Homo sapiens: one gene and its partners. The protein of the gene in region 7 purifies or fractionates together with the protein of the main gene of each other region. This does not show direct contact. Each region holds a gene or a part of one and is shown on either strand. Other genes may lie near its edges. The genes, in order: KCTD5, MYO5C, ZNF234, IVNS1ABP, PAWR, MPRIP and PAN2.

What was found.
Region 1: the proteins of PAN2 (region 7) and KCTD5 purify together in Homo sapiens (affinity purification with mass spectrometry, with the first as the bait; one large-scale study listed by BioGRID). This does not show direct contact.
Region 2: the proteins of PAN2 (region 7) and MYO5C purify together in Homo sapiens (affinity purification with mass spectrometry, with the first as the bait; one large-scale study listed by BioGRID). This does not show direct contact.
Region 3: the proteins of PAN2 (region 7) and ZNF234 purify together in Homo sapiens (affinity purification with mass spectrometry, with the first as the bait; one large-scale study listed by BioGRID). This does not show direct contact.
Region 4: the proteins of PAN2 (region 7) and IVNS1ABP purify together in Homo sapiens (affinity purification with mass spectrometry, with the first as the bait; one large-scale study listed by BioGRID). This does not show direct contact.
Region 5: the proteins of PAN2 (region 7) and PAWR purify together in Homo sapiens (affinity purification with mass spectrometry, with the first as the bait; one large-scale study listed by BioGRID). This does not show direct contact.
Region 6: the proteins of PAN2 (region 7) and MPRIP purify together in Homo sapiens (affinity purification with mass spectrometry, with the first as the bait; one large-scale study listed by BioGRID). This does not show direct contact.

What each region holds. Positions count from the first base shown.
Region 1 is NC_000016.10:2,689,023-2,692,522, forward strand, and holds part of KCTD5 (BTB/POZ domain-containing protein KCTD5), read left to right. Parts: intron 1-3,500. UniProt on the Homo sapiens protein: Its interaction with CUL3 suggests that it may act as a substrate adapter in some E3 ligase complex. Does not affect the function of Kv channel Kv2.1/KCNB1, Kv1.2/KCNA2, Kv4.2/KCND2 and Kv3.4/KCNC4.
Region 2 is NC_000015.10:52,243,805-52,247,304, reverse strand, and holds part of MYO5C (unconventional myosin-Vc), read left to right. Parts: intron 1-290; coding exon 291-388; intron 389-1,262; coding exon 1,263-1,349; intron 1,350-1,839; coding exon 1,840-1,951; intron 1,952-2,737; coding exon 2,738-2,949; intron 2,950-3,500. UniProt on the Homo sapiens protein: May be involved in transferrin trafficking. Likely to power actin-based membrane trafficking in many physiologically crucial tissues.
Region 3 is NC_000019.10:44,148,054-44,151,553, forward strand, and holds part of ZNF234 (zinc finger protein 234), read left to right. Parts: intron 1-717; coding exon 718-844; intron 845-2,359; coding exon 2,360-2,452; intron 2,453-3,500.
Region 4 is NC_000001.11:185,298,066-185,300,243, reverse strand, and holds part of IVNS1ABP (influenza virus NS1A-binding protein), read left to right. Parts: coding exon 1-27; intron 28-113; coding exon 114-245; intron 246-360; coding exon 361-534; intron 535-1,955; coding exon 1,956-2,178. UniProt on the Homo sapiens protein: Involved in many cell functions, including pre-mRNA splicing, the aryl hydrocarbon receptor (AHR) pathway, F-actin organization and protein ubiquitination.
Region 5 is NC_000012.12:79,589,965-79,593,464, reverse strand, and holds part of PAWR (PRKC apoptosis WT1 regulator protein), read left to right. Parts: intron 1-771; coding exon 772-858; 3' UTR 859-3,500. UniProt on the Homo sapiens protein: Pro-apoptotic protein capable of selectively inducing apoptosis in cancer cells, sensitizing the cells to diverse apoptotic stimuli and causing regression of tumors in animal models.
Region 6 is NC_000017.11:17,185,457-17,188,956, reverse strand, and holds part of MPRIP (myosin phosphatase Rho-interacting protein), read right to left. Parts: 3' UTR 1-3,500. UniProt on the Homo sapiens protein: Targets myosin phosphatase to the actin cytoskeleton. Required for the regulation of the actin cytoskeleton by RhoA and ROCK1.
Region 7 is NC_000012.12:56,327,501-56,331,000, reverse strand, and holds part of PAN2 (PAN2-PAN3 deadenylation complex catalytic subunit PAN2), read left to right. Parts: intron 1-2,359; coding exon 2,360-2,529; intron 2,530-2,642; coding exon 2,643-2,763; intron 2,764-2,928; coding exon 2,929-3,006; intron 3,007-3,369; coding exon 3,370-3,500. UniProt on the Homo sapiens protein: Catalytic subunit of the poly(A)-nuclease (PAN) deadenylation complex, one of two cytoplasmic mRNA deadenylases involved in general and miRNA-mediated mRNA turnover.

The DNA of each region.
Region 1 (3,500 bases), on a different chromosome or scaffold from region 7:
ACTAAGCTTTGAGTCATGTGTGGGGCAGGGACCTCCCAAATTCCAGTTTCTATGCTGGGTGAGGCCGAGAAGCAATGGAAGGGAAGGGTGGTGGGGAGGCAGCAGGCCTGGCGACCAGGGCACAGGGGCCCCACCCTGCTCTCCGAATCTGGCTGCCTTGGACAAGCCTCCTTGGTCTCTGGCCTCAGTTTCCCCATTAGTAATTGGTGACATCAAAGTCCTCTTGTGGGCCAAAGATATGCCACAGCTGCATAAAACAAAACAGAAGAGAGAGTAGAGGTGAAGGTTTTGTGTGCGAAATTGAAACAGAGTCACTTGAAATGGATAATTTCAGAGTAAAAACTAAGTATTTCTAATTAGGTTGATTGCAGATGTTGGTGCACAGGAAATTCTATGCCTTCGCGTCTAGATTTCTGTGGGGCAATTTGACAGAGTTTATCTCCTGGATTGGCTCAGGGCACTGCACCCTCTTGATTTCGTTCCCCTCTGGTGGCACGTGTCTCCGAGCACCGGGAATGACTGAGAGCCGCAGGGCCGACCCTCTTTGCAGAGCTCTGGGAGCTGCGGGAGGGTTGGGCAGCAGCAGGGTTATGTTGGGTTCAGAATCTGGCGTGAGAGCCTGGCAGTCTCCACCCTCATTCCTCACTGCCGTTTTCTTTTCTTTTTTTTTTTTTGAGACAGAGGCTCACTGGATCGCCCAGGCTGGAGTGTAATGCACAATTTTGGCTCACTGCAACGGGGCTGTCAGGTTCAAGTGATTGTCCTGCCTCAGCCTCCCTAGTAGCTGGGATTAGAGGCACCCTCCACCATGCCTGGCTAATTTGTGTATTTTTAGTAGAGACAGGGTTTCACCATGTTGGTCAGGCTGGTGTTGAACTCCTCACCTCAGGTAATCCGCCTGCCTTGGCCTCCCAAAGTGCTGGGATCACAGGCGTAAGCCACTGTGCCCAGCCCTTCACTGCCATTTTCAAGGCTGCTGGTTGCATTAGGGACCTGTCCCTGAGAGGCTGGGGAACCCCCACGTTGCCCCCGGTGCTTTGCTGGGTGACAGCATGGATGGCGGAGAGCTGCAGCCGGAGTCTGGTGAGATGAGCAGAGCGGCCAGTCTTGTTACCACACTTCTCTGAGTGTTGCTCTCCTGACCAGACGTCCATCTGCGGCTGCCCTGTGGACCTGGGGAGTGGGCGAGCAGTCAGCTCTGTCTGCGGAGTCTTCCTCCGTCTGCCAGGGCTGTGTGTGCCCTGGCTCGGCGCTGTCTGCCATGTGCTCCCGTGGCCAGGGTCGCCCTCTCCTCTGTGGTTTGGCAACTGTCCTGCCCGGCCTACGTCCTGTGGCTCCGGCTGAAGCCTGGGACCTCTGGAGATGGGTGGCTCAGCCCAGCCTGCTGGGCCCACTCAATGCCAGCTTGGGCCCGGCCACAAGTAGGTCAGATGCCAATTCAGTGAGACGCGGGGAAGATGAGGGAAATGACTTGTCAATAAAACAGTCTTAATTATGGCTGTTTTAGAAAAAAACCACCACGAACCTTCCTGAGATCAAGCGCAGCCTGTGCTGGTTGTGTAAGCCGTGGAACGTATGAGAAAGCCAGGAAGAAGAGCACCCCCACGCCCAGCCCGCAGCATCTCACTGGCTTCCTGGCCGCCTCTCCTCATCCCAGTCGTAGAGGCGTGAGCGGGCCGGGGCATCTTTCCTTCCTCGTGTCATGGGGGCTTGGGCAGGCGCCGCTGATGGCCTTACGGGCAGCACAGGGGCCCTGCCTAGGTTGGCCCAGACGCTGTTCTAAACCTCCCCGAGGTGACCTTGCTGCCTTTGTCTCCATGAGCCTCGGAGTATATCCTGAATTTTGTATGATTTTGTGTTTCCCATTTTCCCATGTTCCATATTTTTTTGTTGTTTCTGCATCAGGGTGGAGGCTGATCCACATCCCCAACACCAGCAGTGAGCTGCCGAGGCCCTCGCGCCTGGGCTGGGCACTGTCTGGGCCTGGGCTGGCACCACGAGTAGCCCCCGCACACATTAGGCCGATCTGGAACATGTGGGCTCACCCGAGCTGGGAGCACCAAGACCCTGCCTACATGCTTGGAAGCGAGTCAGGCCACAGCGAGACCCGAACCCTGGTGGGATTTGGGGGTCCTGGTTTAAGACCCTGGCACTTCCTATGGATGTGGAAATCTCTCATTGAAAGCTTCAAAGAGAGCAGTGGTGAGAGCAGCACCTCCACACGCCACTGCCTCCCCGCCCTGGTGCGGATGTCCCTGACCTTCCGCTCTGCCCAGACAGGGCCTGTTTCTCGAGGAAACCCACCAGTTAGAAGGAACCCATGGGAAGAAACGGCCGGAGAGCTGTGAGGCCAGCCACAGAAGAGCCAGTTTTGGAATTTCCCACCAAGGGTTCAGCCTACTGCTCGCCCTTCAGCCTCTGGTGCCCGGCGGCTCAGCTGGGTTCTAGGGCCACGCAGGGCTCTGCAGTGTCACTCCGGGAGAGGGCTGTGGGGGCAGCTGCAGGCCCGGCGCGCCGAGTCCACGCAGCCTGGGTAGGTCCTGCATGGGCCCAGAGGTCGTGGGGCTCAGAGAATTGAACCACGTGGGAGGAGTGTACTGTGGCGGGGGCCCCATAGGAAGCCCACTGTCCTGGAGGCACTGGGGCGGCGGGGGTGTGGAGCGGCTGGCAGGTTCTTGGTAGACGCAGCTGGGGTTCTCTGCTCCTCTGCCCTGCAGCCTTGGCTCCCAGCGAGGTTGGCAACAAGCATCTGGACTCCTGGAAGTCTTCCAGAGGCTGCTCCTTTCAAGTCTCTTCCTAACTGGATGCACGTGGGGTCCCCCGCGGTGCCTCAGCCTCCCCTGCCTTTGATGGCTGGGTATTTTGCACCCAGGCTGCTGGCCCCTGAGCACAGGGATGGGCTGGAGCCACAGGCTGCAGGGAAAGCGCATCAGGAAGGTTCCTGGGGCGTGCGGTTCCCACACAGGTGCGTCCGGGGGCTTCCTGGTCCCTCTGTCAGGAGCCTGAGCTCCAGGGACTGAGACGAGCTGGGCAGAGCCTAGCCACTGTGGCCAGAGCTCTCACTGCCAGCAGGATCTCTCTTCAGGCACCCTGGAAAGGTGCCATGGCTCCGGCTGGTAAACTTGGCCTTGCAAAGCTCCACGTCCCTGTGTCTGGATGTGCCCAGCCCTGCTGATACGGTGTCTTTAGGGTGTCGCTTTTCTGGCCAGAAACGTCTCTGGCCGGCAGCACCTTTGTCCAAGTTCCTGTTCTGCGTCCAGGAAGAATGAGGTAGCAGACAAGTGGAGGGTGAGCATGACGAAGAGAAGCTTTACCAAGTGTTGGGACAGTGCAGAGGAGACTGTGGGGGCAGCTCCTCTCTGTAGGCAGGTCGGCTCATTCAGTTGGCAGCTCTCAGCAGAGAAGCGGCCCCGGACTGGCTGGCTCCTCTCCATTGACTTCCCAGCTCTCAGCAGAGAGGGTAGCTTCCCTCTGCAGCTGGTCTTCCACTTGCCAATTGT
Region 2 (3,500 bases), on a different chromosome or scaffold from region 7:
TCGTCATACTTCCACCTCCAAGGCAGCACGCACTGGAGCAAACCACGCTCTTGCACAATAACATGGTTTATTCAGTTCTCTGCTGTCTGGGAGTATTAGTGTTCTGTCCACAACAGTAGGACATGCTGATAAACCACAGTCACGGACTGAAACCTTTCATAATAGGTGTTTATGCATGAGGTTAACTTTTCTTCCTATTGAGTAACTTAACAAGGTTGGGCTGCTTTTTACCGTGATGTAAGCAGTAAATTATTTCAGAGCCATGTTTGATCTCTAGCTTTGTTTCCTAGTTCCGCAGCTCTCTGTACTTGCTCATGGAGACCCTCAATGCGACGACGCCCCACTACGTTCGATGCATCAAGCCAAATGATGAGAAGTTACCCTTTGAGTAAGTGTTCTTATGCAACACACAGCGAAGACGTGGGAAGGCAGTTTCTGCCATAAAGTTGGAGAATTTGCTTCCAATTGTCTTGAGATTACCCTGTTTCTGGGTTTTTTTTTAATGATTCAGAACAATGCTGCCCTTTACATAAAATGTTAGCTCAGCCCCTCTGGTTAAACCCCCTCATCTCCAGGGCTAAGCAAAAGGGCTAGATTTGAAAGAATCTTCTACAACTAAAGTTTTTGCAACTTGAACCTTTTACTTGATTAAAAGAAGAATGAGTATGTGTGTTTGTAGAAGGTCATAGAAGGTCAGAACATTTGTCCTCAGACATGATGGCATGAGGCATTATTCTTGTTCTCTGGGACCCATGGAGGAGACCCAAAGCTTGTGAATATAAGGTGTAACAAGTCCCTTGTAGCTTGCTAGAGCTGAAAGAGGTGCCTAAAGGGGGATGAGCTGTCTATGGAGGTGGTGAGTGTGTGTATGGGTCACCAGATGGGTGAGACCTAAGCTGCAGAGCTACCTGTTGGGTGTTCTGTAGAGGAAATTCAAGCATCAGTGGGTGCTTGGGCCAGGCGAGCTAGCATATTTCTTTCCACCTGGTTGTCGTTTGAAGCTCACCTCAAAGGCCAGTTCCCCCATGGCCTTCTCAATGCCACCTCCATCAGAGTCAGCTGCTCCTTTCTCTATATCCCACTGCATCTTTATGGACTGTTTTGCAGAGGTGCTATTTTTCTTGGTCATGCAATAGAAACTTATTAAGTATCTGCTGGGTACCTGGCATAGGGTCACAGTCTAGCCAGGTCTGCTGTGCCTGTTTATGGGCATGTTGAGCAATTACGATGCCTCAACACATAATATCATTGTCTTTTTAAAGATTTGACTCCAAAAGAATTGTTCAGCAGCTGCGAGCCTGCGGCGTTTTAGAAACGATTCGCATTAGTGCACAGAGCTACCCTTCCAGGTATGTTGTCCGTCCTTGTCTTGGAGGGAAAAGTACCTGACATCAGAGCTATGCTGAGAACCAAGGACATGGCTGCCATGATTTTTGTCACATACTTTTGGCTTCTGTAAAGTGCCCCCAAGATTTTCCCACTGCCCTGTGGAAGTCCAGAAGAGGTTGAGAAATAGGCTTTGTAGGGGTCGGAGGTCAACACCACCTTCTCACCCCATCACTGCATCTCGGCTGCTGGTGGTGGCCCCACCGCCTCCCCCGTGTACTAGGGAAGACGCTGAGTGGGAGAAAGAGCACAATTGCTGGGGCAGACAGGAGTGCTCAGGGTGGTCTTGGTAGTGTCCCAGGCAGGCAGGGTATCAAAGATCAGTGCCTTTATCCTCAGGACAGATTGCACCACCCCCGCCCTATGACAACAGTGGCAGGTAAGGCAGCGGAGTCCCCAGACACAATGTGCTTCCTCTGACACTCCTGGCTTTGATCCCCTTTGATTTTCCAGGTGGACATACATCGAGTTCTACAGTCGCTACGGCATTCTCATGACCAAGCAAGAGCTTTCCTTCAGCGATAAAAAGGAGGTGTGCAAGGTGGTTTTACACAGACTCATCCAGGTCAGTTTCCCCACCTCCTGGGATCATGGTCTCCTTCCTGGAAGCACATCTCCCAAACATGCTGTTTCATCTTTGTCTTGAATGCTCAGGACTGTAATCATGAACACCTGAAAGGAAAGAAAATGTGCCCTGAGCATTTGTCTGCTGAAGAGACCATAGCAGAGTGCTCAGTGGGCCATGAGTCCCCGTTAGGGACCCACATCCGAACTCCGGCCTCCCCAGTGTCCTCGTATCCTGTTTAGCTCTCCCACGATCTAACCCAGTCCTCTGTGGACCAGGCTTATAGGATATGGTCAACTGGGGTTGTCACCAAGCCACATGGGCTCCAGGCATGGTGCCTTGTGTGGATTGACATCATTGCTGCAGCGATGAGTTGTGATGGGAAAGAGATGGGGAGTTATAAGGTCCAGCAAAGGGGATGGTGAAGAGAACCCAAAATGGAGACAGAAAACCAAACTTCCCCAGTTTCTTCTACTCCAATGTGGAGACCACGAGAGAGTGGCTGAAGTTCTCTGGCAGCCCAACTGAGAATCGCCGCAAATGACACTCACTCCCCTTCTCACCCACAAATGGATTCCTCAGCCTAAGTCCCATTTCTTCCTCCAGGGTAATTTTAAACAAACAACTCAAAGTATACATTTCTAGATCATGATGTGAGTTTTCTGCCTTAAATGTCAAAATCACAATATTTCTGGCACCTTTGAATCCCTAAAGCTCTTTTCCAAATACTGTATTATAGAAAATCTGACAGATTTTAATTCTAACTATATCATTTTTCTCTTCCAGGATTCTAATCAGTACCAGTTTGGTAAAACCAAAATTTTCTTCAGAGCAGGACAAGTGGCTTATTTAGAGAAACTTCGATTGGATAAACTGAGGCAGAGTTGTGTTATGGTACAAAAGCACATGCGTGGCTGGCTCCAGAGGAAAAAATTCCTCCGAGAGAGACGAGCCGCCCTGATAATCCAGCAGTACTTCCGGGGTCAGCAAACTGTGAGGTATGTTGGAATCAAGGAACACATGTGGAACTGTGGGGCTTTCTGTGCTGATCATCTCCGGCGGGGAGGACTCATCAAGGACAAGGGACCTTTCTCCTGTGACCCAGGGTGCAGACGTGCATGGGTCCCCTTTGTGGTCGTGAGCATTAGGGCAAGAAAGGTCCGTCTCTCAGGGGCAGGTAGTGCTGGCTCTGCCTGGTGTCTGTGTGGTGAGCCGACACCCAGGGCCCTGCAGGGAGGAAGCGCTGGTGAGAGTGTTACTAAGGAGAGTCAGGGTTCCGGAAGCTCAGGGAGAGGCCCGGGGCCCCTTTCCTATGGGAACTGAAAATGCATAAGATCAGCAAGGCCCTAGTGAAGATCCAAAGGACAGATGTCAAGAATAGCCAGCGACCAGCCTGCCAGCAACAGGTGGGGTGCACCATGGCAGAGGGGGTCCCTGCAAGGCCTGGCAGCAAACCAATCACAGAACCCCTAAGCAGGAAGACCACAGCAGCCCCAGCCAAGCCAAGGGCTGAGGGGAGGGTGGTCCACCAGCTGCGCTGATCCTACCT
Region 3 (3,500 bases), on a different chromosome or scaffold from region 7:
CTAATGTTTCTTAGGTACTTAGTCTGCGCCATACACTATTCCAAATGCTATATGTAGTTTCTTTTTCAACGTTTGAAAGAACTCTGTCATGTAAGAACTATCATACCAAGATGAAACTAGGTGAACTTATCCAAGATCACACAACTTTGAAGGGTACCCTTGTGTGCACTGAGGCATGATGGCTCCAGATCATGACACTAAATGCTGCAGGTAATGCTGGTGCTGTGTGCCCTGGGTGTACAGAAGGAAAACTACATAGCAGTTTTAGATATGTTACCAAAAGCTTGTTAGTTTGGCAGACTTTAATGAAAAGGGATAGCATCCAGCGTTCCTATGTGAGAGAGGAGGAAGGTGGGTGTTATCATGTATGTTGGTTCTGACTTGCTAAATGTTTCTGGGGCAATTGGTAATATTTACCGAAAGGTGAAACCCGTGTGGCTCAGGATGCGTCATTTAGAGTTCTAGATGGTTACTTACAAATAGACTCAGTGAAGCCACAAAGGAATTGAAGGCTATTGTTACTGATGTACTTTTACTGACACTAAGGAAAATCAAAGTGTGGCATTGGTAAGATGGAAGGAGAAGGGCTGAGAAATCTACACATTAAGTCTCTGAAAATCTGGACCAGCTCCCCCTACATACTCTCCACTTTCTCAGTGCTGTTTCTTTTCAAGAGTTTGTTAAAAAGGCTGAAGTAAGGTGTGTTTGATGTTATAGGAGGGACTGACCTTCAAGGATGTGGCTGTGGTCTTCACTGAGGAGGAGCTGGGGCTGCTGGACCCTGTCCAGAGGAATCTGTACCAAGATGTGATGCTGGAGAACTTCAGGAACCTGCTGTCAGTGGGTGAGGACATGAGCTTTCTAACACTCAATGTCAGTCTCTTGGAGTGATTTTGTGTCTTCAGGGGTTCAACACTTTGGAGGTCTTGAATTAGTCGCCTACATTTGTAGACCTGACTTTCCTATCAGTAGTTTTTAGTGAAATAAAATGAGATAGAAATATCAGAGTTCACTAAAATTAATGGAATACATAGCAAATAAAACTGGTAAATTGCATGAGTGGTGTGAGAACTTGTGGGAGGAGATTTAATGAAAATAAACGGGGGCCAGGCACAGTGGCTCACGCCTGCAATCCCAGCACCTTGGGAGGCTGAGGCAGGTGGATCACCTGAGGTCGGGAGTTCGAGACCAGCCTGGCCAACATGATGAAACTCTATCTCTACCAAAAAATAAAAAATACAAAAATTAACCAGGTGTGGTGGTGCATGCCTCTTATCCCACCTACTTGGGAGGCTGAGGCATGAGAATCGCTTGAATCCAGGAGGCAGAGGTTGTAGTGAGCCTAGATCACGCCACTGCACTCCAGCCTGGGTGACAGAGTGAGACTGTCTCAAAAAAAAAAGACATTGGTTAGAAATGTAATTTTAGTAATGCACCAAGATGTAACAGTTTTTCTGTTGTTTGAGATAACACCTGGAGTTTTTTGTTTTATTTTTAAGAAGATTAATGAGTGCAGACAGAAATGTGAGGTTAGAGTGAAGGTTTAATAAGCAAAAGAAGAAAGCTTTTTGCCAGCAGAGAGGGGGACCCAAATGGAATTCCCCCTATGAGGCAGGGGTTTGGGGTTTTTATGGACTGGGAAGGGGAAGGAATGTGCTTAGTTTGTGGGCTATTTTGGAGAAAGTGTGACTTAGCTTGGCCCGGAACCTTGGCCCAGGACCAATCAGGTTGAAGTAAAGATATATAGAGACCGGACTTACAGTTTGAAAAAAAGAAAGTAGAGTGCCCACTGGAACCCACTGGAGCCCACTGTACCTATGCCCACAAAAGGAGAAGAAACCTTTTCCTGGGAGCCCGCTGACTATACAGAGGACAAAGGCATTCTTATGCCAGGCCTTGCTCCTTTATCTGAGCGAGCTGGAGGTATGTACAAGCTTTTATCCAAATGGGCTGGAGGTTTTTCTATCTGTGCAGCCGTGGGCATGTCTCCAGGCACAACACCCTGTGGTAGTTCCCTTATTGGTGCCTGCAGCTTAAATTTTTTTTCCAGGCTGCTTTTTATGTTATATAAAAATAAGACACTAACCCATGGGTCAGGGGCTCTCCAAAGACCCTTCCCTTGCTGTCTACCTAAGGCAAGCGAACTAACTCCTTTCAGAAATAGGTTTTTATAGCACATATTTATGTCTATGTGTCTGGATCTTGAAATACTGATATTTCTTCATTAGGTTCTTCTAAAAGTGTTTGAAAACACTACTTTTGATTGATTGATCAGTATACAGTAGTAATTCAAATTGCCAGTAAGTTCAGTTGTACCTTTAGTGTGTTTGTTTTAAATATGTGACTTTGCGTGTTCTAGGGCATCACCCCTTCAAACATGATGTATTCCTTTTAGAAAAGGAAAAAAAGCTTGATATAATGAAGACAGCAACTCAAAGAAAAGGGAAATCAGGTAAGAACCAAGCAGCTAAGAGTCCTTGTACGTGATTGTCCATCTGTTGTACTTCTCTCCCCTGCTCTTGCTGCCATCGGGTCCAAATTGCCAAACCTCTGTCCTGGATGATTGCAACAGCCTTCGTACTGGGCGCACTGCATCCACCCTCAATAGTATAAAGTATGTTCTCCTACAGGCGTTCTCCATATCATAGCTAAAGTGATCCTTTGGAAATGTAAGTCAGATTGCCATTCCTCTACTTAAGACCTTGTACAGGGCTGGGCACAGTGGCTCATGCCTGTAATCCAGCACTTTGGGGGCCAAAGCAGGAGGATCAGGAGTTTGAGACCAGCCTGGCTAACATGGCAAAACCTCGTCTCTACTAAAAATACAAAAATTAGCCAGGCGTGGTGGCCAGCGCCTGTAGTCCCAGCTACTCAGGAAGCTTAGACAGGAGAATCGCTTGAACCCAAGAGGCAGGTTGCAGTGAGCCAAGATCGCACCGCTACACTCCAGCCTGGGCAACAGAGCGACACTCCATCTTAAAAAAAAAAAAAATACTCTGAATGGCTTCTTATTTTTCTTAAAGTTGAAGTCTCTTAAAGGAGCTTATAGAGTCCTGCGTGGTCTGCTGTTCATCCTCCTCTGCGTCTCTGACTACATCTCCTGTATTCTACCTCTTGCTCCATCTTTTCCAGCCACATCATCCTCCCTGCTATTTCCCAGACCTGGTAAGGACATTGCTCGCTCTGTCGCCCAGGCTGGAGTATAGTGGTGCAATCTCAGCTCACTGCCACCTCCGCCTCCCAGGTTCAAGCGATTCTTCTGCCTCAGCCTCCCAAGTAGCTGGGATTACAGGTGCCTGTAACCACGTCCGGCGGATTTTTGTATTTTTTATAGAGACAGGGTTTCACCATGTTGGCCAGGCTGGTCTCCTGACCTCAAGTGACCCGCCTGCCTCAGCCTCCCAAAGTGCTGGGATTACAGGCATGAGCCACTGTGCCCGACCTGGACACTGCATTTCTTACTGCTGCTGTAACATATTACCCCAAACTGAGTGGATTAA
Region 4 (2,178 bases), on a different chromosome or scaffold from region 7:
AATTGAGAACTAACCGTTGTAATGCAGGTAATAATAGTTTTCTCCTGAGATATCCAGTATTTAAATATGATAATTAAATTATCAATATGTAACTTTATTTTATACTTACATAGGAGTGTGTGCTCTGAATGGAAAGTTATACATCGTTGGTGGCTCTGATCCATATGGTCAAAAAGGACTGAAAAATTGTGATGTATTTGATCCTGTAACAAAGTTGTGGACAAGCTGTGCCCCTCTTAACATTCGTAAGTTGATTTTTTTTCCTTTTTTTTTTTAAAGACCTTCAAATCAACAGTATGTGTAGTATACACTTAGAGTCTGGGAGATGTAGCAATAATCTTGACTTGACTTTTCTTGTAGGGAGACACCAGTCTGCAGTCTGTGAGCTTGGTGGTTATTTGTACATAATCGGAGGTGCAGAATCTTGGAATTGTCTGAACACAGTAGAACGATACAATCCTGAAAATAATACCTGGACTTTAATTGCACCCATGAATGTGGCTAGGCGAGGAGCTGGAGTGGCTGTTCTTAATGGTGAGTGTTGGGATTTGGAGAGGTGAAGAGTAGATAGTGGCAAGACTTTGTTCTAAAACTCTGAGAGAAAAGGCCAATGACTATAGTTGTACAGTTAAGAATTCAGAAGCAGTCATCTCTTTTGATGCAATGGAGATTAGGGTGATTTGTCCTTTAGAAATATATTTTCTAATCAAAGACTTATAATACTTGATATATAACTTAATTCACCAGTCTTTTGATGGGTGCACTGAGTGAATTTCCAAGTCATTTTCTTCTATAAAACATATCCTTAATGCATCATCTTGAATTTTGAGTTTCCCCTTCTTTACAGCCAGAATTTAAAGAATCTGATCTGCAAAACAAAGGCAAATCCCTAGTCTTTTCCAACTGTCTACTCCATACCTAATTGGAAATACAACCTTTAGACTATTTTAACAAGTTTCCAAAGTATTAAACTTTTTAAATGTAGACATAGCTTTCTTTCCACCTCCATTTTATTGACTTTTAATGTCTAATTATATAATCATAATTTAAAAGTTAGCATTGTTTTTGGTACCAGGCTGAACCTTAGCAGGCTTATGGCTCAACTGGTGAAGGCTTAAGTGTAGACACAGCCTGTTGGCCTAGAGCATTGTCAGCGTGCTTTACAGATACATAGAATGCAAGCTGGTTAAGTGATGGTCAAATGAAAAAATAATGAATTTGAGAATCAGTAATAAAATTTTTTCTAAGCTACGGAGTATTTATTGCTAACATTTTATCTATTTGAAAATAATCATAACTCTGTTTCCAGAAGAAATTTCTGTACCACAATCATTTTATTTTTTTAATTGAGACATGGTCTCACTGTGTTGCCCAGGCTGGTCTCGAACCCCTGGGCTCATGCAGTCCTCCCACCTCAGGCTCCCATAGTATTGGGATTATAGGCATGAGCCACCGCATCTGGCCCCAAAATCATTTTATACAGTTGGAAAGCCCTAAGATATTTTTCTGCTTTCCTATAATCTCTTCTGAGTCTTAATTCTGTACATTGGGCTGATATAAAGTCCAGTGCACAGAACTATTCTGGTTTGCTACTTAGTAGCTGCATCTGTAGGATAATTGTCCAGCTTCTTCCTGCTTTTCTTCTTCTCTGAAATAATAATAGTAACTACCACAGAGTTGGTGAAAATTGTACTTATTTAGATGCTGCTACTGCTTCCTCTCCCTCCCCCTTTTAAGTTGCCTAAGTTCCACGTGGGAATGGTTTTTTTATTGATTTGATTCCCAGCTCTTAGAGAGTATTTGTCATATTAGGCATTTAATAAATTCTTTTTGACAAAATGAACAGGCATTTCTATTTTTAAAACCACTGATTTTTAAGCAAAAGACAGATTTAGGGGAGTTTTACCTTATTACACTTTAATCTCTGGATTTACCCCATCTCATTTCTCTTTTAGGAAAACTGTTTGTATGTGGTGGCTTTGATGGTTCTCATGCCATCAGTTGTGTGGAAATGTATGATCCAACTAGAAATGAATGGAAGATGATGGGAAATATGACTTCACCAAGGAGCAATGCTGGGATTGCAACTGTAGGGAACACCATTTATGCAGTGGGAGGATTCGATGGCAATGAATTTCTGAATACGGTGGAAGTCTATAACCTTGAGTCAAATGAATG
Region 5 (3,500 bases), about 23 Mb from region 7:
CTAAAACTTATGGTGAATTTGTTTTAACCAGATGGTTGTGTGTTTGGGACAAGGATTAATACAGGGAAAAAAGAGCTGGATCATATGCTTTTAAAGCTGGAGAGCGAATACTTAATTTAGTGGCTTTGAATTAATTTTAGCTCTAAAACCTTTCCTTCAAAATGTCGTAGAAAAGTCCAACATACAAATTGATCTGGAGCTGAAAACAAAATTGATCCAGATCAAGATACTCCAGATCCCCTTTTCCGTAGGCCTCAGTTTTGTCACCTCTCCAGAGTGTTATCCCCATTGTACACCTTTAAAGATCAGACAGTGGTAGGAGTGCATCTAGAACTTGTACCTGCACCTTTTGATGACTAATTTGACACAAGGTTGCAACCTAGGGCTCAATACCATATATGGCTTGCATGGGTAGTTTTTTTTTTTGCCTCAGTTTTAGGGAGGGGAAGTGGAGTTTGTTTAGCTAAAAAACTAACTTATTTATGATGATTGAAAATTGGAAGATTCACAATTTTAAAATTCTGACTTTCGGCTTCCTTTGAAAAACTGAAAGATCTGTAAGAGTTGGCCTATACACTTGTTGTAAGAACGAAGAGTCAAGTAATGGATGCTCTTTTTTGGTGGGGCATATTACATCTAAAGTTGTTTTCAGAGCTTGCCCTCATTTCAAAATTAATTGGTTGTATGAATTATTTTTAATGTGTATTAAGTGTTTTCATCTCTCCTCAAATATTTTTAAGTATTTTTAAAGTGTCTTTTTTTTTTCTTAAGGACCTAGATGACATAGAAGATGAAAATGAACAGCTAAAGCAGGAAAATAAAACTCTTTTGAAAGTTGTGGGTCAGCTGACCAGGTAGAGGATTCAAGACTCAATGTGGAAAAAATATTTTAAACTACTGATTGAATGTTAATGGTCAATGCTAGCACAATATTCCTATGCTGCAATACATTAAAATAACTAAGCAAGTATATTTATTTCTAGCAAACAGATGTTTGTTTTCAAAATACTTCTTTTTCATTATTGGTTTTAAAAAAGCATTATCCTTTTATCTCACAAATAAGTAATATCTTTCAGTTATTAAATGATAGATAATGCCTTTTTGGTTTTGTGTGGTATTCAACTAATACATGGTTTAAAGTCACAGCCGTTTGAATATATTTTATCTTGGTAGTACATTTTCTCCCTTAGGAATATACATAGTCTTTGTTTACATGAGTTCAAATACTTTTGGGATGTTACCTTCACATGTCCTATTACTGATGTGTGCAACCTTTTATGTGTTGATGACTCACTCATAAAGGTTTTTGTCTACTGTCATTTGTTCTTTCCACTTATTCTAAGCATTTAGAGTAATAGAGTCATACTTTTTTATAACAGCAACCTTTTAAAAGGAAAGCTCTTATAAAGTCACTGTCATGTTTTAGTTGACTAAATATAAATTTAAGAGAATACTTGAATTGTGCTATAGTAAATAAAAATTTACTATTTTGTGTTTGAATATTGAAAAATTGAATCACTTTAACTCCTGAAAAACATACAATTGTAATTTCAATGTAAAATTTCTTATGTAGGTACTACCTTTTTTTATCGTTCCAAGGTTTGCTAGTGAACACAGGATATTTTAAAAGTTTTTTATTCTTCGGGCCTGGAAAGTGTACAAAGTCAGTGTAGGAGAAAAAAATCCATATTTTTATATTAGCATGCACACTAAAAACCAAAATATTATTCATACTTAAAACATTCATACAAAACAATATGTAAGCAGAAATAGTACTAAAATACTTTGCCTAATTTCTAAGTTGAAGAATAACACTGGGACACAGTTTTTTCATATGAGAGAATATTCCGCTATTTCAAATTTAAGGGATTTTCTTCCTAACATTGAAATTTTAAAAACAGAGTTACTTCTAAATAATTATACAGATTTTTTCTTCTATTAAATATTATTATTTAGAATTGTTTTTGTATTACATATTCATGTTAAGAACCCCGTCTTCCCTTAAAATACATTAAAATTATGACATTTTTGCTTTGTGATTGAATTTCAAATAGCAGTATGGTATCCTTTTATCTAGTTAATATATGAAAGTGGCTTGAATATAGTCAAATCCATTTTAGGTACTCTACTGACTTTTTCCTTCACTTGCCAAGCCCTTTTATTGTTCACTGTTAGAAAAATAGAGAAGGTGAGACAGCTGGGGGAAAATGTGGAGTAAATGATAATCAAATGTTGAATTCTAAAAGTCTCTACATTTACCTAGGTTGGCTTTCTCCCCCAGTTCAGAAGTTTCCAGCTTGGCCAATCATCAGAATCACTTGAGGAACTTAGAAAGAACTCCCTGGCTGTAGCTCCTATGTAGGTTTAGGTTGAGACTCTGGATTCCACAATTTTTAAAGGTTACCATCTGAGGTTTCTGATCATAGTCTACTTTTGAAGCAGCTGCTGCTGTTTCTTTATTCCATTGAACACCCTGGAATTGACATAATTTTATCTATCAGCATTTCTCCCCTTTTAGTTTATTTAATAATTAACCCGGTCTCCAGGGCAGTTTTCATATGACCATGTGTATATTCACTGCTCACGAAAAAGTTTAATGTTAGATTACCAAATTTAATATAGTTACAGAATTACTGCATAAGGGCTTCCCTTCTTGGAGACTCTTACCCAGCATGGGAACAGTGATCTGCCCACATGACAGGGTGGTATGCCAGGCATAGTTAACTGCTTTTGGTTGTGAGGTACTCATCTTCCTTTAGTTACCCTTAGTTATGTGGCACACATGTCCTTATTGCCTAGTTCGTCATCCACACTTTGGATCTTGTGAAAATGCTGTTAGTATCCAACCTTAAAATATATTAGTATATGGGTTTTTATTAAAAGAATTACTTTGAATTTTCTATTTAATTCATATGTAAATAAAGGAACATTTCATTTCACTTAAAAAAATTATATCAGTTATTAGGCTGGGTGCAGTGGCTCATGCCTGTAATCCCAGCACTTTGGGAGGCCAAGGCGGGTGGATTACCAGAGTTCGGGAGTTTGAGACCAGCTTGACCAACATGGAGAAACCCCGTCTCTACTAAAAATACAAAATTAGCCAGGTGTGGTGGCGCATGCCTGTAATCCTGGCTACTCAGGAGGCTGAGGCAGGAGAATCGCTTGAAAACCCAGGAGACAGAGGTTGCGGTGAGCTGAGATTGCGCCATTGTACTCCAGCCTGGGCAAGAAGAGCGAAACTCTGTCTCCAAAAAAAAAAAAAAAAAAATTATTAATACTTTTAAAGACTGAGCTGTTTAAGAATTTTTTGGGGAACATTTCTAGCAGTGATTTTTTTGGCCTTTAATGATAGCGTAAAGACAGGAGCCTTACAACTTAGGCAAAGCATTTCACATGCAGTCCTTCTTCCATCTCAAAATATGTACTTATTTTACATACAGAATTTTACACTAACCATTGAAAAATAAAGTAGGATCTGCTACAGTTTCACCTGAAAATTT
Region 6 (3,500 bases), on a different chromosome or scaffold from region 7:
AGGAGCAGGGGCCAGCAGAGCTTCCCCTACACCCCAAATTAGGCTGCAGGTCATATGCAAAACCTAGGAGGCCAAACAGGATTACTTGTTTGTGTAGGGACCTGGCTGCCAACAGGGACCCCACACAGGGTGGCCTTGGCCTCCAGGGCCCTGCAACACCTAGCGGGCTCTGCTGTGTCCCAGCTCCGTGGCACCCGGCAGCCTCCCAGGAGACAGCCAGGCAGGAGTGATGATCAGGATTGTGTTCAGTTTTCAGCATGTTTCCATGTACCCAAAAGTTAAGAGTCCCATCTACCTCTATAGTAAAACAAAATGATAGTAAATACATTCCATAAAAATGTTTTTCAAGCCATCAGTTTTGTTTCCGGCCTTATCTGTCAGTATTCCTTTCAGGCACATTCTGAGATTCACAACTGTGTTCTTTAAACAGCCAAAATTCCCTCTTCTCCAGCATGAGCTGGAGGGTCAAGGGGTGATGGGAGCTGGTGGCTGCTGCAGAAACAGGTTCTTGCTGGGCCTTCCAACTCACTAAGCAGGCTGTGGGGCCTTGCTCTCCATGCTCTTCTGCCTTCATACTTGCTGAATCCGAAGGCAAGATCCTCTCCGATGTTACCTCTTGTTCAATAAACCTGCAAATTCGCGATACTGCCACCTCTAGTCGCCCTGGGATGTCCACTGCATCACCCACTTAGCACAGGCCCATTATGACTCCCTGAAGCACAGGCTTCCAGCTCAGAGGGCAGCGCACTGTCTCCACCCCTGCCCAATGATCCACTCAGACCCGGGAGGCTGTGGACAGCGCGTCCTCTGAAATGCTGGTCTCCACACCTGCCTGGGGCTGGGGCACCATGGGTGGATAAAGAAACTGACCAGCAGAAAGTGACTATTCTGCACGTGCAGGCGTGCACACAAGGTAATTACCCACAAGCCTGCAGAAACTCACACGAGCACAACTGCCTCGCTTTCCCATTCATATGTGTGGCACAGCTTACTGGCTGGTGCTAGCATACTACACATAAATACATTTATAGGAAAATAATTAAAATGCTGAAGTCTATCTATTTGAACTTCTTCCTCATCGGTAAAGCTGGGAAAGCTCACTACTGTGTAGCTGGTGCCAAGGAGCAGCCTGAGACCCCGCCTGCAGCTGTCCCTAAGACTTTCCTCTCCCCATACAGAAACCAGTTCTACTTCTTCACTGTTCTTCTTTCTTCCCTCTGGAATTCAGGGGTTAAATCCCTTCCAGGGTATTTGGATGCCTGCAGGAAGGAAACTGGAGAGAGGGCCCAGCCCTGTGCAGCACAAGGCTCCCTGCTCAGTGTGGCACCAGTTGGGCAGCCGTCAACATCTGTGCCAGTGTTGCCACCTGGGCAAGTCTCTGTTCCTGGGGCATGTCCAGGTGCAACATGAAGAACATCGTCATCCTTTCTCGCCTGGTTCACTCCATCGCAGGATGGAGCCCACCAGCAGGGAACCCAGACTTCCTTGACCCAGATGGTGGCTGTCCCTGTATGAGGGCTCTTCAGAAACGCCAGGACAGGCCCAGGGCATTTTCAGGAGCTCTTAGCAAAGCAGCCTCAGTCCGTTTCCTGGCAATACCCTACACTAAACCAGCCTCTGGGGAGAGACCTGTGGCAGGGAGGAATGCAGACGCCCTGCTGGCCTGTCTCTGACCCCTCACATGCTGCACTCATATTAATTTTCCAGGATTCCTGAAGTCCAGCCTCAAGGGATATGTGACAGAAAAAAGGGAATCAAATGCTCTTTTGTCCTATGGGCAAACTTGCTTTAATTTAAAGCACTGTGAGGGCTGAAGGCAGATGATCCTGTCTCCAAGCATGGACTCTGGCCAGAACCCCCTGGAGGGCAGAAGGCAGGGAGCTGTCTGCAGAAGGGCCAGTGGGGTCCACCCCCAGGGGCAGCAGGGATGGTCACGAAGGAAACCATGCCAGGAAGGGCAGGTGGTGGACCTCAGAGAACGGCACAAAATCGTAGCACCCAGACACGAGGCAAAAACTCCTATCTGGTCAGATCCTGATGCACTCCAGGTCCCTGTCTGTCCTGGAGCATTCGTGTGACCCAGCAGTGTCCTGGAGACAACAATGAGGCTGTGGGGGACAGCGGGGTCCCGAATGTTCCTTCTGTATATTCCCATTGACACAGAAAGGTCATAGTGCATTTCTCAAAGCACTGCCAATCTAAATGGTCAGGGGGGGTCTGATAAGTATATCTATATCTGATATGGGGCCTTGCTTTGTCACCCAGGCTGGAGTGCAGTGACACGATCATGACTGATTGCAGCCTCGACCTCCCGGGCTCAAGCAATCCTACTACCTCAGCCTCCTGAGTAGCTGGGACTACAGCTACGCAACTGTGCCACCTCAGAGAAGTAGATTTTTAAACAAACCCAATTTTCTCTTGCTGTTAACAACACTGAAGACTAGTAGCAGAGGAGTGAAAGTGTGGGTTAAGAGCCTTAAAAACTTGTGGAAAGGGCTCGATGCCAGTGGAGAGCACTTAGTTATTTCAGTGAGAAGAGAGCACCTAAACCTGGGTCTGAAAACACATGAAAACTCCAGGCCTTGCTCCCGGCCCTTCTGCACATTGGGGGCGGGGCCAGAGCTCCACTGATGGCCTTGCTCATGACTTCATCTAGAAACTGAGCAACAGGATTTCTAGATTTCAACGCCCAAAGCATCCACCCACCCACAGAGACCATCACACCAACACAAGCATGAATACAAAGTGAAAGCATGTTCTTGGCATGAAAACCATCTACTCACACCCCACCTTGCTCCTAAAGTAGCAGAACCTGTTCCACCAGCCAGGGGTTTATACTCCCTATCTTAATGGGATTAATGGTTTTCATGGGGCCATAATAGACTCCAATTTAAGAGATTTTCAAGAATTGCCATAGAATGTTTTGTGGTGGTTAAAAAGGTCTTCCTCAAACTGTTAGAAAAAGCAAAATTGTTAGTATAGGTTTACTTTAACCAGGCTCTTTTAAAGATAAATGCTGCAAGATAGGTTTTCAGAGCTCAGATTAATTAAATGAGAGTTAAGATCGGAGTCTCAATAAACACTAATGTGCTGTTCTCATCAGATTCTGACATCCTCTGTACTTTCTTCTTGACTTAACAGGGGTCTCCTCTCAACCTTTTCCAAAGCAATGTGACGGTTTCTTTTCCAAAAGGTAAAAAAAAAACCCAAACCCCCAAACCTTCCCCCATTTTGAATGATTCCTGGGGGGAATTCATTTGTTTTTTGCAATCAGAGTCTGAAACCTGGGCTGCAGGTCAACAATCTCGAGCAGTTATGAAAAGACCAGGGTTACTGGAGACCAAGAAAGGAACGAGCGGAGGAAGGAAGGAAGGAAGGAAGGAGAGGGGCCGGGGATTTTGTGCAAGATTTAATAAAAAACAAACAAAAATAGGAATGGTTGCTTTCAACATTTTCCAGGTTGTGAAAGGTTTGCCACGACTCTCAGGGGTGTGGTTCTA
Region 7 (3,500 bases):
TGGTGAAACCCCCGTCTCTACTGAAAATATAAAAATTAGCTGGGTGTGGTGGCAGGTTCCTATAATCCCAGCTACTTGGGAGGCTGAAGCAGGAGAATTGCTTGAACCTGGGAGGCAGAGGTTGCAGTGAGCTGAGATCACACCACTGCACTCCTGCCTGGGTGACAGGGCAAGACTCCGTCTCAAAAAAAAGAAAAAGAAAAATACAATGAGGCCAGGCACAGTGGCACCTGTAATCCCGGCACTTTGATAAGCCAAGGTGGGAGGGTTGCTTGAGCCTAAGAGTTCAATACCAGTCTGGGCAACATAGCAAGACCCCATCTCTATTAAAAGAAAAATACAGGCCGGGCGCGGTGGCTCACGCCTGTAATCCCAGCACTTTGGGAGGCCGAGGCGGGCGGATCACGAGGTCAGGAGATCGAGACCATCCCGGCTAAAACGGTGAAACCCCGTCTCTACTAAAAATACAAAAAATTAGCCGGGCGTAGTGGCGGGCGCCTGTAGTCCCAGCTACTTGGGAGGCTGAGGCAGGAGAATGGCGTGAACCCGGGAGGCGGAGCTTGCAGTGAGCCGAGATCCCGCCACTGCACTCCAGCCTGGGCGACAGAGCGAGACTCCGTCTCAAAAAAAAAAAAAAAAAAAAAAAAGAAAAATACAGTTGAGTAAGGGGGTTGAGGTAATGAAGGGTGGGAAATGTTGCTATTTTGTTTGGTTTTGTAGTGTTTTGTTTTAATTTTAATCTTTTTTCCTAATGGCTCTTTTAGAAACAATGTTGCTACTTTAAATAGTTGGTCAGGAGTTCTCTCTGATAAAGTAACATTTGAATAGAGACTTGGATGCAGCACCAAAAAGGGGAACAAAGAGGCAGAGCTCCATGCCTCTAACTTATCCTTGTGCCTCTCCTTTACTATTCTAGGCCCTCTAGAAGGGAGGGAAGGAGCCATGTAGATATCTGGGGAAGGAACATTCTAGAGAACTTCATATGCTGTGTTAAAAGAGCTTGGACCTTGGACTTGAACCTTCAGGCCACTGAAGGGCTTTTTTTTTTTTTTTTTTTTAGGTGGAATCTCACTCTGTTGCCCAGGTTGGAGTGAAGTGGTGCCATCTCAGCTCACTGCAACCTCTGCCTCCCAGGTTAAAGTAATCCTCCTGCCTCAGCCTCCTGAGTAGCTGGGACTACAGGTGTGTGCCACCATGCTCAGCTAATTTTTGTATTTTTAGTAGAGATGACGTTTCACCATGTTGGCCAGGCTGGTGTCAAACTCCTGGCCTCAAGTGATCCACCTGCCTTGGCCTCCCAAAGTGCTGGGATTACAGTGTGAGCCACAGCACCCAGCCTCAGATTTGGGAAATATTTAGGAAGCAAAATAGGCCAGGTGCGGTGACTGATGCCTGTAATCCTAGAATTTTGGGAGGCCGAGGCAGGTGGATCACCTGAGGTCAGGAGTTCGAAACCAGCCTGGCCAACATGGTGAAACCCCCTTTCTACTAAAAATACAAAAAATTAGCTAGGTGTGGTGGTGCATGCCTGTAATCCTGGCTACTTGGGAGGCAGGAGAATTGCTTGAACCTGGGAGGCAGAGGTTGCAGTGAGCTGAGATCGTGCCATTGCACTCCAGCCTGGGCAACAAGAGTGAAACTCCATCTCAAAAAATAAATACATAAATAAAAATTTTAAAAAATCCTTGGTTATCTAGTGGTTAGGAAAAAAATACATAGGACTTGACTGTCAGATATATGGCTTGGTCAACTAGGTAGATCTTGGTACCATAGAGAATACAGTAAGAAAAATAGAAATAAAAATGGTGAATTTAATTTAGGATGTCATGAGTTTGAGGTTATGATGGGATGTTTAAGGAGGTTTAGTAGTTACCATCATCTTCTTGGTATCCATGTGGGATTGGTTCCAAGATCTAAAGATACCAGATACCAAAATTCAAGGATGCCTAAATCCGTTATAGAAAATGATATAGTATTTGCATATAACCTTATGCACATCCTCCCAGATGTGAAACATAAGAAAGCCAGCTGGCCAGTAGAGAATTGGACCATGTCCCTGACCTTCTATATACTGTTCTAACCAAGTGAGCCATTACCTATTCAGCAGGGTCATTGTGAGGACAAAATGAGGTAGAGTTTACCAAAATGCTGTGTAACACATTAAACAAACATAAGACAGTATTATCAGTGTCTTTATCACTAAGATTGACTGGTTCCTAGCCTTTTGCCCCAGTTGCTCCTAGTCACAAAGGCCAAGCAAGAAAGGATCCAAGCTGAGCCATGTTCAGTCCCTGACCTGGCCGTAGGGTGGCCCTTGCCCCTCCACTCTAAGTGTCTCTGTTGTCTTTGTCCTCTATAGGGCCATGCCACTTCATTTTTTGGCCCAGCCTTGGAGCGCTACTCATCCTTTCAAGTCAATGGCAGTGATGATATTCGGCAGATCCAGAGCCTGGAGAATGGTATCCTTTTTCTCACCAAGAACAACCTCAAGTATATGGCCCGTGGGGGCCTCATTATATTTGATTACCTGTAAGTGGCTTCTCAGCTCTGGACTAGGAACGAGGATGCCTCATAGGGTGGGAAGGCTAAGGGATTGGCAGCTTGTAAGGCCTGGGCCCCTTAGCCTTTCCTCTCCCCACCAGGCTGGATGAGAATGAGGATATGCACAGTCTCCTACTGACTGACAGCAGCACTCTACTCGTTGGTGGGCTGCAGAATCACATAATAGAGATTGATCTTAACACTGTCCAGGAGACTCAGAAGGTACAAGCTTGGGGCAAGAAAGACCTATGTGGGGTCTGAGGTTGTTGCGGGGGCAGGGTATGCTTGGGCTGGTAATGTGCCTGAGATGTGGGTGTGACCTTTCTGTTCCCTTGGTCTGTGGGAAAAATCATTCTTCTCACTGGTTTTTCCTGCTTCCCTCTCCAGTATGCAGTAGAGACGCCTGGAGTCACCATCATGAGACAGACAAATCGCTTCTTCTTCTGCGGCCACACGTCTGGCAAGGTGGCCAAGTTCCATTTCTCCTCCCACTGCAGGGCCCTGTTTCACTAGATACCTGATTGCGATCTGCTTTCCCTTAACTCTGGGGTGTAGTTGGATTGGAGGTGAGGGATGAGTGGAGTGAATTCACTTCCTACTCAGTGATGTTCTACTATGAGATTATTTTGCAGCTTGATGTTTTCTATGATAATGAAGTCTCCCTGAAGCCCCTTCTGGCTCTGGGCTTCTCTGTTTGCCTTTTCTGTGCTTTAACTTTCCCTGTCCTAAAGCCCTAGTTCCTTTGGTAGGGACCCCACTGGGTTAGGTAGGTGGCAGGTATTTTTCCTGATAACAGAATTTGCAGATAACTGAATTTTTTTTTTCTAGGTTTCCCTGAGAGACCTCCGTACTTTTAAGGTGGAACATGAGTTTGATGCCTTCTCAGGAAGTCTGTCAGACTTTGATGTGCATGGCAACCTGCTAGCTGCCTGTGGCTTCTCCAGCCGCCTCACTGGCCT